Regions from separate parts of the Homo sapiens genome. Here region 1 is linked to region 2. The links come from fine-mapping of genetic effects on gene expression. A gene starts in region 2. The other region holds a variant in brackets. All regions are shown on one strand. Distances are from middle to middle.

Region 1 (5,391 bases), 26 kb after region 2:
ATCATCCTGCCTCAGTTTTCTGAATAGCTGGTACTCTAGGTATAAGCCACCATGCCTACTAGACTCATTTTTTAAAAATATTTTTGTAGAGATGGGATATCACTATGTAGCCCATGCTGGAAGAATGAGATTATTTCTGATTTAATCTTTATCGTCTCCGAGCCTACCATGGTGCTTAGAGTAAAGACTCAGCAGATTTTTGTTATTGAGTGAAACAAGTTCTGCAACTCTTGATTATTTCTGGGGTAGTCATCCTTCTTGCCCAACCAGATTCTAACCAACCTGGTCTCTTATATTCCCAGGATTTACCTGGCCTGCCAGCCCCAGAGTGCTGGATACTGGAGGGGTCCTTTTCTGTATTCCAGCTTATGATCTTCTCTCTTTTCCATATCTCTAGAGTCTGGAAATTTCTGAAGATCTGTGCTTTGTTTTTGACAGAATTTCCCTCATGATCTCAGTTCATAACTGTCCCTCCAGTGCCATACACCATGGTTAGATGCTCTTTGTTTTCAACAGCTGCCCCAGTACTAGAGCTTCTGAGCCTTGCTGAGTTTTGTCTTCTTTTGTTCCTTGCCCTCTCTTCCCAATGCCATCAGAACTGCAGTCATTTTCCTGCCATCCCAGTAGTTTCCTGCTAAAGTCTATAGCTTGATTCTCTGCTCCTCTAGAATTGCCACGTGTATTAGTCCATTTTCACACTGCCGATAAAGACATCCCCGAGACTTGGTATGCCTTCCACATGGCTGGGGAGGCCTCACAATCATGGCAGAAGATGAAAGTCACGTCTCACATGGTGGCAGATGAGAGAAGAGAGCTTGTGCAGGGAAACTCCCCTTTATAAAACCATCAGATCTTGCGAGACTTATTCACTATCATGGGAATGGCATGGGAAAGACCCCCCCCGCCCCCCACCACGATTCATTTACCTCCCACCAGGTTCCTCTCACAACACATGGAAATTGTGGGAGTTACAATTCAAGATGAGATTTGGGTGGGACAAAACCAAACCATATCACCACGTGACTGTCACCACACTGCCACACATAGAGCTAATCCTGGATGCCATGCCTACTTAGGCACTCTTAGCTAAGAGTGAAAAACCACATCTTCTGTACCTGTCATCAACCAAACTTTTCCTAAAGTCGTGATAGCTTTTGGAGGCCTCTATCTTTTCTAACTTCCCACAGAAAACCTTCAGTATTGCCAAACAAATCTGCCTCAACCATAAATTACACTTAACATTATCTATATAACCCTGGCTAGATCAGCATGGGTAGGCACTTGAAACATAAATTGGTTTTACACCTGGATTTGCTCTGAGAGTATGGGCAGCTTTTTTTTTTTTTTTTTTTTTTTTTTGCAATCTGCTTGTATTCTACCTTACCAAGTTGCAGGGGTGTAAAACTTCTGTCACTTTTACTGACTAGTTTATCTGAGTGGTAATTAGGCTTCCTGTGGAAGTAGTTTCTCTGGTTTAGAGTCTGGGTGAAAGATGAATTTCCAACATTAATTAATCATCTGAACATGCTTGTTATAATATTATGAGCATTGTTAACAACCAGCCCCTATGGTAGGAAAAAATAACACCTTTTAGGACTAATCTATTTCTACCACAAGATATATCTTAAAAGGTGTATTGAAAATGTATTACTTATTTCCAAAATACCTGCAAAGAAATAACTTAATGTTTAATTCACATGTGAATAGGACTATTTCTTAGTATGAGATTACTCCCTCCTGATTCCAGACAATTTAGTTGTTGGTTAATAGTCTCTTTTTACTAGATCTTCAGTATTTCACCCTTATTAAAGAAAGAAATACCTAACATACATAATGAAAAGTTATGTGCTCTAGCAGCTTGTTTTTGTCCATTCCTCATTTCATATCCACCTGTAGCATGTGTTCTTTTGGGTAACTATGATCAACATTCTCTGATCGCTTTTGGTGAAACAGACTCTCACTAGGGAGACCAACTTGCTCCACACACAAGTTTTCATAGCTCAAGTTACCAAATAATTTTAATATCACAATTATGCAACACATTCTGTAATCTTGTCAGAGCCATGATATTTCACAGCCTGAAGAAACTCTCAAGATCACCTAACACACTATCCATTTCTTAGATCAAGATATTCAGGAAGGTGAAGTGACTTGCACAATAAGCTGGCGGTAGAATAAGAAGTCTTCTCAGGGCCAGGCATGGTGGCTCATGCCTGTAATCTCAACACTTTGGGAGGCAGAGGTGGGAGGATCACTTGAGACTAGGAGTTCAAGACAAGACTGGGCAACACAGGGAGACCCCATCTTTACAAAAAAAATTAAGAAATTAGCCAGGTGTGGTGGTGCATATCTGTAGTCTTTGCTACTCAGAAGGCTGAAGTGGGAGGATTGCTTGAGCCCAGGAGTTTGAGGCTGCAGTGAACCATGATCACACAACTGCACTCCAGCCTGGGTGAGAGAGCGAGAAAACAAAGGAAGAACATTTCTCAGATCTCCTGACCCACCTACATCCCTTGTAATTCATTTATTTTTTAATCCATTCACTTTTCTATACAAATACTTACTAAGTACTACTTTATGAAGTGGACCCTTCCAGAGCTTTGAAAAGACGAGGAAGAGAGATGTGACTCCTGCCTTCATTACCTGTGCATTCTAGGTAATTCGGCTAAACACACAACGTTGGTTTCTCCATCAATCACAATAGAAATGTAGGTGTATAATACATGATGAGGTCAATGAACTCTTAAGACTTCTTATAGCACAGATAAGGATCCACTCAGAACTATTGCCTTTTGTGGATACATTGCCCTCACTCCTTCTAAAGCATAACACTCTCTCTCCATCTTCCAATTCTAACCTTGAATTAAATCCCCATTATACTATAGCTTCCAACTAGCATGTAACCCTCT[C/T]ATCTAATTAAGAACTTATTCGGGACAAGGACTTCCATACTCCTGGTCCAAACAGTCATAACCAGTAAAGAAGAACATTTTCTCTGGGGATGAAAGTTCACCTCCCTTTATACAGTGGTTCTCAGTGGGTGGGCAGTTCTGCCCTGCAAGAGACATTTAGCAATGTCTGGAAACATTTTGGGTTGTTACAACTGGGGAAGGGTGCTACTGGCATCTAGAGAGGGGAGACCAGGGATGCTGCTGAACATCCTACAATGCACAGGACAGCCTTCCTCCCTGCAATAAAGCATCATGCAACCACAAATGTCAGTTATGTCCAGGTCAAGAAACCCTAGGAGCCACCTACAAAAGGAAACCGGAAGTGGAATCATGCAGTATTTGTCATTTTGGGTTGCCTATTTCACTTAGCACAGTGTCCTCTGGGTTCATCCATGTTGTTACAAACAGTAGAATTTTTTTTATCTGAAATAGTCAAACTTATAGAAACAGAGGACAGGATGGTGGTTGCCAGGATCTGGAAGGGAGGGGGAAGTGGAAAGTAGTTTAATGGGTGTAAAGTTTTATTTATGCACAATGAATAAATTCTAGAGATCTGATGTACAACATAGTGCCCTCTATTTCACCAATATGGCATTGTGTAGTCAAAAATTTGTTAAGAGGTTAGATCTCATATTAAGTGTTCCCACATACACATGCAAAAACACAAAGGGGAACAATAAAACGTTTGGAGGTGATAGATACGTTTAATATTTTGATGATATCATGGGAATGTGTATATGTTCAAACTCACCAAATTTATACACTAAACATGTAATTTTGGGGGGATATCAATTATACCTCAATAAAGCTGTTAAAACCAAGTAACCTACAACCCAGGAAGCACAATTGTCCCTTCAGACCCACTCAGGATAATTGATTTCAATAGAATCAAATGCAAAGCCTTTAGAGAATCTTCAATCACCTTGATTGTTCTAGTTTCTTCCCTAACAAGGAACTGGAATGTTATTTCACTCAAATATATACTCATACAAAATAAAAAACTCTAACCATTAACATGCAGTTTATGTGCCATCATTAAATTTCTTGGTAGTCTTCAATAACTTATGAAAGTATTATCAATATTAGCTACATTTTCTGTTTTCAGTGTGAATAAATAAATTACAGGTTCAATGACTACCACGTATAACAAAGATACTTTCCCCGCAAATCTGGAAAAGAATTTCATAGGAAACCAAAAATAAAGTATAAATTATCCCTGAAGAAAAAAGATAATCTCATTTTAAAATATTTTAAATCAATCCAAGATATGAAAGACTAAGGTATATGCTCTAAATATTATCAGTTCAGCTTTTTTACTACTCAAAACCTTTATGCTCTATTTAACAAAAATATTAACAAAATCGTAGTGTCATGGCAATATAATTAACAAAAATTAGTTATTTTAAACCAATAGCTAAGGCAGCAAATAATTGTCATATAAACATCTCACCCAGTAAAAAGTATGATATGCATAATCATAACAACCATCCCTTATTGAAGTCCAATCCTGTCTCCTTCATGGTCTCCAAAACTAAGGCTCATAACTTTGAGAAGTAGGTTATTATTTTCTCCAGTTGAATTATAACAATATAGGTTTGTTAAACAGATTGACTAATGTATTCGTTCATTTTCACACTGCTACAAAGATGCTGAGACTGGGTAATTTATAAACAAAAGAGGTTTCGTTGACTCATAGTTCCACATGACTGGGGAGGCCTCAGGAAACTTACAATCATAGTGGAAGGCAAAGGAGAAGCAGGCACCTTCTTCACAAGGTGGTAGAAGACAGCAAGAGTGAGTAAGTGCCACACTTTTAAAACCATCAGCTCTTGTGAGAACTCATTCACTATCAGGAGAACAGCATAGGGGAAATGGCCACCATGATCCAATCTCCATCTACCAGGTCCCTCTCTCAGTACATATGGATTACCATCTTGATGAGATTTGGGTGGGGACACAGAGCCAAACTATATCAGTTAACATACCCACGTCATAACGAAGGAAAACCAAATGCAGCTAAATATAGCTCAAAGTTTCACACCACTTTCTCTACATCCCAGTGTTCCCAGAACTTCACTTTCAGATAAAGTCTCATCTCTTGCCATTAGCATTTTACAGAAGCCAAAAATGACCTCATCTGTTCACCCTTCCTCAATTCTTAGGTTGCTGTTACATATCCCATGCTCTTTCTTAAGAGTCTTCAGGCTAAAGTAGACTAGAAAAACAAAAGTCTAACAGGGCCAGGTATCTAATTGAGTTCAGTCATATTAACTCACCAAACACTGCTTAATTTTGTGTCTACCTTCTTCAGAGTGGATGATACCATCTTATTGGGAATACTAGCTGTACCCATCCCATTCAGTCAGTGACCTAGAATTGCCTTTGATCAAAAGCAAACGTGGTTTGTGGAACTGACTGTTTTTAGATGCCAAAAAACAAATAC
Region 2 (5,391 bases):
CTGACCAACATGGAGAAACCCCGTCTCTACTAAAAAAAAAAAAAAAAAAAAAAAATTAGCTAGGAGTGGTGGCACTTGCCTGTAATCCCGGCTACTCAGGAGGGTGAGGCAGGAGAATCACCTGAACCTTCAACCCAGGAGGCAGAGGTTGCAGTGAGCTGAGATGAGCCATTGCACTCCAGCCTGGGCAACAAGAGCGAGACTCCGTCCAAAAAAAACACACCAAAAAACAGAATAAGGAAGCTACTAAAACTGGGGAATTGAGCTCTAGGATATCTAAGCTACAACAGAGATGGTTTATCTGAAAACAAAAATTACTTAACCACTCTAGCTTGTTTTCCTTTCTCCAAGATGAAAGGCATTAGAGTTATACTAACTGGCCTGGTAGATCTCTGTCTGTTCTAAGCTGCTGTAAAGCAGATGAGTCTATATTTCTCTAATGGCTCCCACGCAAATTAGTTTATTAGCAAATATAAATTTTTACATGTTTGACTTTTTCCCACTCTAATTGTTCTTATGACTGATATCCAACTAAGAAGAAATGTGACAATAGTGGGTAGTGACAGAATGACCATTTAGGTATTAAAATTCTTTCTTCACTTAATTGTCAACTGGTTAGGAGAAGTGGGATAACTTTCTCTTCTGACGGAGGGAAAAAATGACCAAGGTATTGTAAAGAAAGTTTAATCAGCAGACATCAGACTTGGTTGGAATCATACACATGGTAGTAACAGTCAAGCAAAGATGGAGGAAAGATAATAGACAGCATCTGGGAAATGGTACTGAAAAAGAAGTGGGACACAAAATCTCCATTAGCAGAGAGACAACAGTAGTCTTTTTGTGTGGTTTACTGTTATAAAATTCTGAATAGGAATTCTGTTTCACAGCTGTTAAAAGAGAATTGAAATACAACTGTGTCCAATAATTGAAAAGCAGCTGTTCATTCGCCATGTCTAAAAACAATTGTATAGGAGAAATTGGCTTGGCAGTACAGCAAAAAAAAAAAAAAAAAAAGTGTAATTATTTTTAATTGCCAAAGTGGGGAAGCAATCTGACAGTGGAATAGGACATTGTATGACATCATGAAATCTGCTTTTCTGAGAGTTGAAAAATGGTTAACATTTTCTCTGCCTGATGTGCTATCCGAAGGCAGGAAGGAGTCCCAGTTCATCCCTTATAGGCCCTTAGAGAGAGCATTGTGATGCCAGTTTCCTTTTTTTGTCTATTTTTCCTCCATATATGTACACATATTGTGCACATAACTGATATGTTTTCTTAAGACTTCCCTTTACAGTAACTATTTCCCACTCTGCTGCAGACTAACAAAAACAGAAAACTAAAGGGAAATCAGTGTGAGTCCTGAAAGTTGTGTCCTGCAGTAGGGATTCTGCATAAAACACAAAGAGAGGACACAAAATACGCCACTTTTCAAGTCACATTTACAAAAGGCTTCTCTTTTATCATAATTCACTCGCCAAAAATATAATTGGACAGTCCTTTAGCATTCTGCAGTATTTCTCAGCACCAGCAAAGAGACAGTAAGGAATTTTTCACCAAGAGCCATGAGTAAAGAGAGCTTGTAGCCTTCTACAAGGATCTGGTTGCTCTGAATGGTCAAGTAATCGTGGGAAGTTTATTGTCAATGCCCGGGTAGCAACTCTTTCAACTATGTGATGATCCGCTTTTTTGCTTGCTTTCTATTAAAAAACTGTATTTGATTCTGTGCAAATTCATAAACCAAACACAAAATTCAGGGGTTAAAGAAAACAGTTCTGTAAACAGATGAGACAGACATGCTAATACATTGGAAACATGCTATTTAAATTCAGACTAGTTAAACAGGATGCCCTTTTGTCACTGACCAAATTGTTAAATTGGTGCCTTGGCAAGAGCCTTTTGTACTCTGAAGATTCCCGGGATCCAAACCTCTGTGGTATTAAAACAAACAGAGTAAATATTTTCCTTGAAGTTTACATCCAAGATCTAAATATTTCCAAGCATGTCAAACTCACTTTTCTCCACCGCTCCCTGCAGGGTCCGTGTAGACTTCGGCTGCCAAAGAACCCAGTTGAACTTGCCTTGGGAGGGGCTCCATCCCTGAAGACAAGCAAAGCTCAGAGCCAGAAGCAGGGTGTCTTGCAGCTGTGCTGCTCTGCTTGGCAGAAGGAACTCACGCAGCAGCAGGTGTGCTATCTGCTGACTTCAACACACAGAGACGGGGAAGGCTCTGTCCTTGCTGCTTGCTCCCTAAGCTTGAATATCTGCCATTCCCTTTTACCTATTTGCAGAGAAGTGCCAAGAACCTACCCCGGAAAACCTGCATTTCTCTTCATTAGCTTTAAGTGTGCAAGTCAGCTTTCTAGCTACATAACTTCTAGCTACATAACTTAAGCTAGTTGCAACTGCAAAATAAAGTGATTCCTCTGCAGAATCTAGCAGAGAATATTAACAAACTCTGTTTCTTCTCTCTCTCCCTTGTTTCATATTGTTTTCCATCCAACATGCAGCTGAAGTTCTCTTAGAAAGAGACTACAAAGAACCACAATTGAGTACCACATCAGTATTTTTTTTGGACCTTGTATCTTGGGGACTTACTCTGAAAGTGTCCCAGCATAATCGCGAAGACAATGCTCTGCTCTTTCTTTTTTTTTTTTTTTGGTAGTTACTGACAGTAAATTTTCAAACTGCCATCTCAAATTCAGTGTAATTGAACTCAACCAGAAATAATGAATATAACTGTGGGTATCAATACCTTTGCCTTTAAACTCAGTGAGGTACTTCAAAGTACCTCATCCCACCTCTAAGAAATGCACTTACATTTACCTGGAGTTACCTAATATAAATGAGCCCAGTGCTGCACTGGCCAGGCCTTCCTTCACTGAAGAACTTGTTGCTCTTCAGCTGTTGGCAGATGGCCATAAGCTGGCTGCCCTTCCAAGGATTGCCTCTGTTACAGAGAGCAGCCTTGCCCAAGGACACATCCCTTTGCAGGGAGCCCACATCCAAAAACTGATCAAGGAGGGAGTGTAAGGGCCTGTTCATTGCAAATCAACCTGAGAAAATGCTGAAGGGTCATTCTAGCTCTAGAAATCTCTATGAGATTCCCTGAAGCTGTGATGGGTCTCCGTGGAAGCTCAACTTCTTTCTCTGCCCTGTCTGCTTCCTTCCCCTAACTCGAGAGGTGTTGAATCCAAGGATGCACCTTAATTAACATAACGAGCTCTTAATTTCATCTCAGATTCGGCTTCCCAGGAACCCTAATCTTTGCCACATAGGCTCCTACAAAGCCCATTTTGGGGGGAGTCATGTCTGCATTTGATGCAGGCATCCAACCAGTCAAGTATTTGATTAAATAGGTACAATGTATAAATTTATATCCATAGGAAAATGAGGAAGGAATATTTACTTCTATCTTGGTAGAATATATAGTCAAGTTAGAGAGTTAGCATAAATATATGAAAACGTAACTCATTATATAACAAATGATAAGTATCCAATGGTTACATGGCATTGGGACTTATCAGAAGGGAAGATTGGTTTTAGGACAAACTAGTTGCTGGTTCTTTCAGGAGCAGTAAGTTTATTGTAACCCATTATTATCTGCAGGCTGTTCTTCTATGAAAGTCATCCCATCAGGACATACAAGAGTCTTCACCCTAGAAATGAGATTGATTCTGAGTAGCCTTCCTGCTGCTCTGTACCTCATGGTGAAACTGTCAGACAATTCACAATGGCAGTAGGTAAAAAACATACTTCCATAAATACTTTTTCCATGAGATCTGCTATCGTTGACCCTCTTCTTCCTGGGTTGCTTAGGTTCCCAGGGACTCTCCACTTTCCCCCTTCAAACTCCAAAGCATTGACCCATAATGAAGGTGCCTTGCCCCTCTTCTGGCTGAGCTGGTTTGCAGGGTTGGCCCTGCCAATCCAAATCCCCAAAGCTGGGTCTTGCTCTCACCTGTCTTGACTTTGCCTTTCTTGACATCTTCATTGTTTCCATTTCTACTTCTAAGTTCTCATCTCCATTTTGCCCCTTCTAGATTCTATCAACCTGCTGTGATCTCCCATCTCCTATGTAGAACTAACAGAATTTGCTCTGCCTTTTTACAAAATCACAGTCCAACATGGAGGCCTTGGGCAAATCATTTAATCTCATTCATCTTCAGTAGTCTCATTTACAAAATGAGGATACTAATTCCTACCTCCTGTAGATGAGAATGATAATGATTAATGAACTGACTTGAAAGCAGGAGTCTCCTGGGAAGAAGTAAAAACAAAACATAAACATAAAATCCTTGCCAAAACCATTACCTAGATTTACTGTATACCAAGCACTGTGTAAAGTGTTATATCATAATATATAACCCTCCAGTAGAAATTCCAAGGAACTGTGACAAAAAGTTGTGTCACTTGGGAATTAAAATGTGATTTATCTTTGGTTACTCTGACTCTATTCCAGGTGTAATCTGAAACAACACCCTGCCCATTCTTGCACAAGATCTCTTTCCTTTCTTTTTCATTCTCAATCCTACCCCATTCTAAGTTAAGCCTTAGCAATTTATAACCCGTCTAAAATGCTGCCTAATTGATTTTCATGACTCTGATTGAATGTATCTGCATAATTCCCTTGCCCCCTCAGGCTTGGAGCCAGGTGGAGAATAGTTTCAGGAGGGCAGTGTCCTATCTGCTAGGATGGGGCTCTTGTTATCCATAGTAGAAATAATAGCAACAAGACCTGAAGTAGTATCCTGGAGCAAGGCCACCATCAAAACTGTGATACAAAACAAGATTGCTAATCTGAGGAGGACATAAAGCATAAAACATGGGCCAATACTAAATCAAAACAGAGCATAAATAAGGACAACCAATGAACAAGCTATATCTAAACACATATGAAAAGGTTAAGTGGGAACTGTTTTTAAAGTGGAGAATATATGACTTTTTAAACACTTGCAAAAGCCACACAACCATCATTACAACCTAATTTCAGAACATTTTTAATCACCTCAAGAAAAAAAACATATCCATGAGCAGTCACTCCCTAGTTCCCCCTCGCTCCAGCTTCTGGCTATCCCTACTCTACCTTCTCTCTCTGTACATTTGCCTATTCTGGACAATGTGCTTCGACTTCTAGTTGGCATTGTTCTGCCGGATGTATTGAAAGAAATTGAAATGTGGTGCATTCTTTCCTGTACACCTCCATCGATAATTCGCGTCATATCTTACTCCAATTTTGCTATCCCTTTCATCAAGATTTTAACACTCTCTTCTCTTCCCTTCCTCTCCCCTTATACAACTGTTTCCGTTGCTCTTTGGTTTGAGGTTAAGATGCTTCAGCCTAAATTCCATCCAACAATTTTGCGCCCCCCTACTTCCACATGTGCCCTTTAA

Alleles and levels. Positions count from the first base shown, and alleles are read on the strand shown. Sizes are in standard deviations (SD) of each study's normalised expression.
For the expression in esophagus mucosa of the gene that starts at base 2,143 in region 2, allele T in region 1 goes with a higher level than allele C (small effect, 0.38 SD a copy in GTEx).

The links. PIP is the estimated chance that this variant, and not a neighbour inherited with it, causes the effect. A credible set is the group of variants that fine-mapping cannot tell apart.
Region 1: its variant is the best candidate, but not a certain one, in a credible set for the expression of LINC01497 in esophagus mucosa (GTEx, PIP 0.55).

What each region holds. Positions count from the first base shown.
Region 1 is chr17:69,931,991-69,937,381 of GRCh38, reverse strand. No RefSeq gene overlaps it. Among named protein-coding and RNA genes, the nearest start is that of LINC01497, 27 kb to the left of the region's middle. The variant C/T (reference allele first, on the strand shown) is at 2,910.
Region 2 is chr17:69,958,459-69,963,849 of GRCh38, reverse strand. LINC01497 (long intergenic non-protein coding RNA 1497) reads right to left here and starts at 2,143. Exons shown (of 5, transcript NR_110875.1): 1 at 2,013-2,143.